Linked DNA regions of Homo sapiens: region 1 is linked to region 2. The links come from fine-mapping of genetic effects on gene expression. A gene starts in region 2. The other region holds a variant in brackets. All regions are shown on one strand. Distances are from middle to middle. Region 1 has its middle 8.4 kb from the start of ADORA1. Region 2 holds the start of CHIT1 (chitinase 1).

Evidence for each region. PIP is the estimated chance that this variant, and not a neighbour inherited with it, causes the effect.
Region 1: its variant is fine-mapped to the expression of CHIT1 in whole blood (TOPMed, PIP above 0.99).

Annotation. Positions count from the first base shown.
Region 1 is chr1:203,117,852-203,120,763 of GRCh38, reverse strand. No RefSeq gene overlaps it. Among named protein-coding and RNA genes, the nearest start is that of ADORA1, 8.4 kb to the left of the region's middle. The variant C/T (reference allele first, on the strand shown) is at 1,278.
Region 2 is chr1:203,228,556-203,231,467 of GRCh38, reverse strand. CHIT1 (chitinase 1) reads left to right here and starts at 1,795. Exons shown (of 11, transcript NM_003465.3): 1 at 1,795-1,856; 2 at 2,906-2,912. The coding sequence starts at 1,832.

The DNA of each region.
Region 1 (2,912 bases), 110 kb after region 2:
CTCTTCATCTGACAGCCTGTGGCCCAGCCCCTACCCCTAACCCTAGCCCACGGGGCACCAGTCACAGATTTCTTGGCTTCTCTGCCCCTGTCTGCGGCCAAAGAGGTGCCTCTGGGCAATCCGCCTGCCACCCCACCACTGTCTGGGAGATCCACCATGTGACTCATAAGCGCTCATGCTGTCCTGTGCAGCCCACCCCATCCCAGCCAGCAAATGCACCCCACCTTCCTGGACTCCTCCGACAGCACCTCCAAGGGTTCAAAGGCAAGCAATCCTCTGTTTCCCCTCCCCTCACTAGGCAGAAGGGGAAATTGAGGCAGGGGAGATGATGATATCTGTTGGAGGTGAGGCAGCCTGGTATCTGACTCCCTAATCGCTCCCTTATTCCTCCCCACCCATCAAGAGGTGTCCTTGTCCCTCAAGAAAGACAAATACCCCCACTATCTTCTATATGTTCCAAAAGGGAGAAGAAGGCTGTCAAGACTAGAGAAAAGAAGGAAGGAGGGGCAGAAGTGAAGCTGCCAGACTAAATTCAGGACACCCAATTAAAAACTTTTAACAGCTTTATTGAGATACAATTTACATAATATAAAGTTCACCCATTTAAGGTGCACAATTCAGTGGTTTGAGTTACTTATGGAATTGTACAACCATCACCATCATTTAATTTTAGAACATTTTCATCACCTTTCCTCCAAAAAAACTTTGCACCCATCAGTAGTCACTTCCCAACCCTTCCCTCCACCACCCATCCCTAGCAACCACTAATTTACTTTCTGCCTCCATGGATTTGCCTATTCAGGACATTTCATATAAATGGAATCATATGATACATAGGATACATGGTCCTTTGTGACTGGCTTCTTTCACTTACCATAATGTTTTCAAGGTTCATCTGAACTGTGGCATGTATCCATACTTCATTCCTTTTTAAGGCTGAATAGTATTCCATCCTGTGGACAAGCCACATTTTGTTTATCCGTTCTTCAGTTGATGGACATTTAGCTTGTTTCCACTTTTAGGTTATTGTGAATAATGCTGCTATGAACATTCGTGTACATGTTTTTTTATTTTATTTTTTTTTTGAGACGAAGTTTCACTCTTGTTGCCTAGGCTAGAGTGCAATGGTGTGATCTCGGCTCACTGCAACCTCCGCCTCCCAGGTTCAAGCGATTCTCCTGCCTGAGCCTCCTGAGTAGCTGGGATTACAGGTGTGAGCCACCACACCTGGCTAATTTTTTGTATTTCTAGTAGAGACGGGGTTTCACGATGTTGGC[C/T]AGCCTGGCCTCAAACTCCTGACCTCAGGTGATCCACCCACCTCAGCCTTCCAAAGTGCTGGGATTACAGGCGTGAGCCACCACACCTGGCCCACGTACAGGTTTTTGTGTGAGGATGTGTTTTCATTTTTCTAGGGTAGATACAGACAGAAGAAAAGGCAGAACACATGTCTGGCCCTTTCTCACATTTATCCCCTGTATCATCACCCCACCTGGGTGGGAAGCTATTATGCTCCCCTTTGCCAGATTAAAACACTGAGGCTCAAGGAGAGGCCTGAAACCACTGAGTGCTGGAGCTGAAACGTGAGCTCAGGCCTCCTGATTTCCACTCCAAGGTTCTTTCCAGTTCATCACAATAGCCCACTCAGAGAGTCTGCAGCCCACTGAGGGAACGAAACAGAAGGAACTGAAAAGCAACATCTTCCACGTGAACCATCACCTCATCCTTCTGAAGTCCTAACTAGGTGCTTCATGGACCATGTCCTGGGGTGTAAGGGCTGAGACTGAAGCCAGAGGCTTCATGGAAGGAACGAGTTTTTGCTCCACTCAGTAAAAAGCTAACTGGGATGAAATGGCCCCTGTCCTCAGCCAGTATCCCTGGGTCCCCTGAGAGCCTGCAGGAGAGCCCACCATGTACACATTCTCATAGTTATTTCTCTGAGTGAAGCCCCTCCCAGCAGCGATGGAAGCCAGGTGTGGAAACACTAGGCATTCACTCATTATACTCAGGAATCAGAACTGGTCACAGAGGCTTGGCCACTGATTCCGGCTTCAGCCCATTCCCTCAGCTCCAGTCTTATCCTGGCCCCAACTCCCTGATGTTAAGCAGAACTCAAAGTGCTAGTCTAGAATCATTCCCTTCAGATCTGCCTCACCCCCTCTGCCCTGAACCCTGTCACCAGCGAGCACTGGGCATGGAAGGAAGGGAATTTGCGCTAAGTGCACGTTCCTCAGGTCGGGATAAAGAGGTAGTGGATGGCCTGGGCTCCCTGGTCCTCTGTGGGCTCATCCCAAAGTCCTACCTTCCACACCAGAAAAGCAAACAGCAGCTTGCTAGAGGGGTCCACTCTACAGTTAAAAGCCACTCACTCCATCTGGCTCGTCAAGTGGGGTGGGAGACACAGAGGAGCCCTTCACTTACTGAGCTTTTCTATTTCAATCACTATCCCCGGCCCGAGTTGGACAGACTTCATCCAGGGCTTAAAATAGCTCCCGGGGCATAGAGCTCAAGAAACATTGACTGAATGTTCAATGTTCAAAATAATACACTTCAAGAGTACAAGAAGGAAGTCTCACAACGCTTTATGGTTTAGAATTATTTAACTATCATAGCATTGCCGGTGAAATAAGTATAATCATTTTCCCATTTCTCAGAGGAGGAAACTGAGGCTGGGGGGAGGGAGGTGGGGAAGGTGGATCGGCTGAGCAGCGGGATCTAGAGCCAGAAGCAGCCGCCCAGCTCAGGGCTGTTGTCCGGGGCTCGGGGTCCCCCTGCTGGCCTAACGGAAGCCTGGGCGTGGGCGAGGAGCTGGGCAGGGCCAGACCCCAGTCCCGCAGCCTGAGTTCCCTGCTCCGCCGCGCTAGGTGCTGGGTTCCCGCGGAAGGGAGAAGAAGGAGGAGCCATAGCTGGGCTCA
Region 2 (2,912 bases):
GGACTTAGGGCTGGTCCATCTGAGTGCTGAGGTCCAACACTCTCAGGGGCCTCGAAGAGGTTACTAGAGCCCTCTGACACCCCTAGACCAGCAGAAGTGGCAGCACTTGGCAGAACCAGGAATAATAGCAGCCACCATGGAGTGCGTTCCCAACAGTCCTCTGAGGATTCCCCTTTACAGATGAAGAAACTGGAGTTCAGGGAAATTAAGGAACTCACTTCAGTTTACACAGATAGTAAATGGCAGAGGAGGAATTCAAACTCAGGAACCTAACTCCACAGCCTGCCGCACCCAATATTCCCACGTGGCCATCTAGGCCATTCATGTTAAGCCCACCGGCCAAAGACTGGATCCCCTAGAAACTGCAGAGCTTTCTCAGGGACCCTGGAGTTCATGCATACACCAGACATTGTCTGCAGACATTACAGTAATATGTGCCCACTTGGGTCCTGTGGTGAATTGAATGGTGACCCCCTCCCACCCCCCGCAAAGGATAACTTCACCTGGAATCTCAGAAGGTGACTGTATTTGTAATAGGGGTCTTTGCAAATGTAATGAAGGTAAAGATCTCAAGATGAGATCATCTTGGATTAGAATGTCCTTCTCAGAGACAGAAAGGAGGGGACATACAGAGACACAGCGAGGAAGGGCGTGTAAAAATGGAGGCAGGCAGAGGCTGGAACGATGCCGTTGCATGCCCAGGAATGCCACAGGCCATCCGAAGCTGGAAGCTGCTGGGAAGTATTCGCCCCTGGAGCCTTCGGAGGAAGCATGGCCCTGCCAACTCCTTGTTTCCAGGCTTCTGACCTCCAGAACTGTGAAAGAATAAACTTCTGTTGTTTCAAATCACCTGTTTGGTGGCCATTTGTTACAGAAGCTCTGGGAAACCGACACAAATGTCCACCATTCTTCTGTTTTTTTTTTTTTGTTTTTTTTTTTTTGATGGAGTTTCACTCTTGTTGCCCAGGCTGGAGTGCAGTGGCGCGATCTCGGCTCACCACAACCTCCGCCTCCTGGGTTCAAGCAATTCTCCTGCCTCAGCCTCCCGAGTAACTGGGATTACAGGCATGTGCCACCATGCCAGGCTAATTTTGTATTTTTAGTAAAGATGGGGTTTCTCCATGTTGGTTAGGCTGGTCTCGAACTCCTGATCTCAGGTGATCTACCTGCCTCGGCCTCTCAAAGTGCTGGAATTACATGTGTAAGCCACCATGCCTGGCCCAAATGTCCACCATTATTATTCTTCATAAGAAACATAGGCATTTCAAGCCATTACCAAACTTATAGTCACTATTTATCATTATCTATTTTTCTCCATCAATGGATATGCAACTATTACTATCATGAAAAGTAAATTATATTTGCAACCCCATTATCTTCTAGATGGAGAAACAGTTTGAGAGAGGGCAGTGGAGAAGCAAGAGAGCTGGTCTGGAACCCAGCTGCCTGACTCGTGAGTCATTTCTCTTCCTCCAAAGCCCTATTAAGTCTGGGGCTGCTTATGGTCCTCACCAACTACACAAAGAAAGTCAGGGTCATGCTCATCCATCAGGAGGTTCAGGGCCACTTCCCGCTTTCCTCTGTTTGGCAACACTAAGAGTCACCCTCTGATTGTTCCAGAAAAGCAAGAATTGCTAAAGGCCATTGTGTCAAGTTTGCCCAATTCATGCTGCTTGACATCTTACCCCTCCCCACCCTGCTCCCATCCCCCCCACCCAGTGCCCCTGATTGCAACACTCCTGGCTGGGGTGGGACAGGGTGGCCAGATAAAAGCAGAGCAGGACCTGGAAAGCTGGTTTGTATGGGCTGCAGCCTGCCGCTGAGCTGCATCATGGTGCGGTCTGTGGCCTGGGCAGGTGAGCCGTCGGATAGTGGGCTGGGTCTCGGGAGCTGTGGGGAGGTGGGGATGTGGATGTTCAGGGACCACTTGCTACCATTTGCAAGGAAGCAGGAGGACTCAGGAGAACTTCAGAGGGTCATTTTATCCCTCTCCATGCCTCCTGGCTTGCAGTCCCTTGATTACCTTTCCTGTGGGCTCCCCCTTAGGCTCTTTCAGCCCAAGAGACTTCATGTTGCAAGGGAAGGCTTTTCTCAACAGGCTGAAGATGACTTGACTTTCCTCTCTCTGTCCTGAAAGCCCAGAGTCAATGAGGCCCCTGCACTGGGTCTTTGTGTCTTTCCCATGTTCTTAGGTCCCTCCTGTTGGCCTTATCCAAGAAGCGCCCACTGCCAAGAACCTCTTCTCCAACCTCATATTGTCTGTCCTGCAAGAGGGCAGCCTGGGGCCAAGATCCTGGGCATCCTTGCAAATTTTCATGGAGGTTCTATTAGGTTGACAGAGAAGTCCAAGGTCACCAGGTGAAAGAGATCTCTTCGAAGGAGTCCTGTCAGACCCTAGGTCTCCAAGGCTGTGGTTGCCTACCACAGCCAGGTAGCGGAAAGGCAACAGGAAGCCATAAACGATGGGAGCAGAGGCACAGGCCCTCCCCAGGAGATGAACTCTCTCCATGCAGCCCTTCCAGATTGATTCTTTCTAGCCCCAAAACAGGCTTGTTTCTTGTTCCGAAAGAGAAACTATCTCTCTAAATAACTCACAAGTCAGCAGTTTTTCCACAATCTTCCTGAATCCACACTGCCCTTTACTGAGGTATAGAGAGGGGGCAGCCTCAGCCCATGGAACTTTCCATCAGCTTCTAGGACCAACCCAGGCCAGGAAGAGACCCCCGTGGTCTGGTCTGCATGAAGGGATGGGCACAGTGCCCTCCTGGGTCCCTTCTGAAAGGAGAAAGCTTGATTTGTATGAAATCAGCCCTCCCTGACCACCTCCTGTGCTTCCGTAAGCTGTGGGGCCTGGGAAGGTGAGAATGGCAGCATAACCCTGGCCTTCTCTCTTGTGTTGCTCCAGGTTTCAT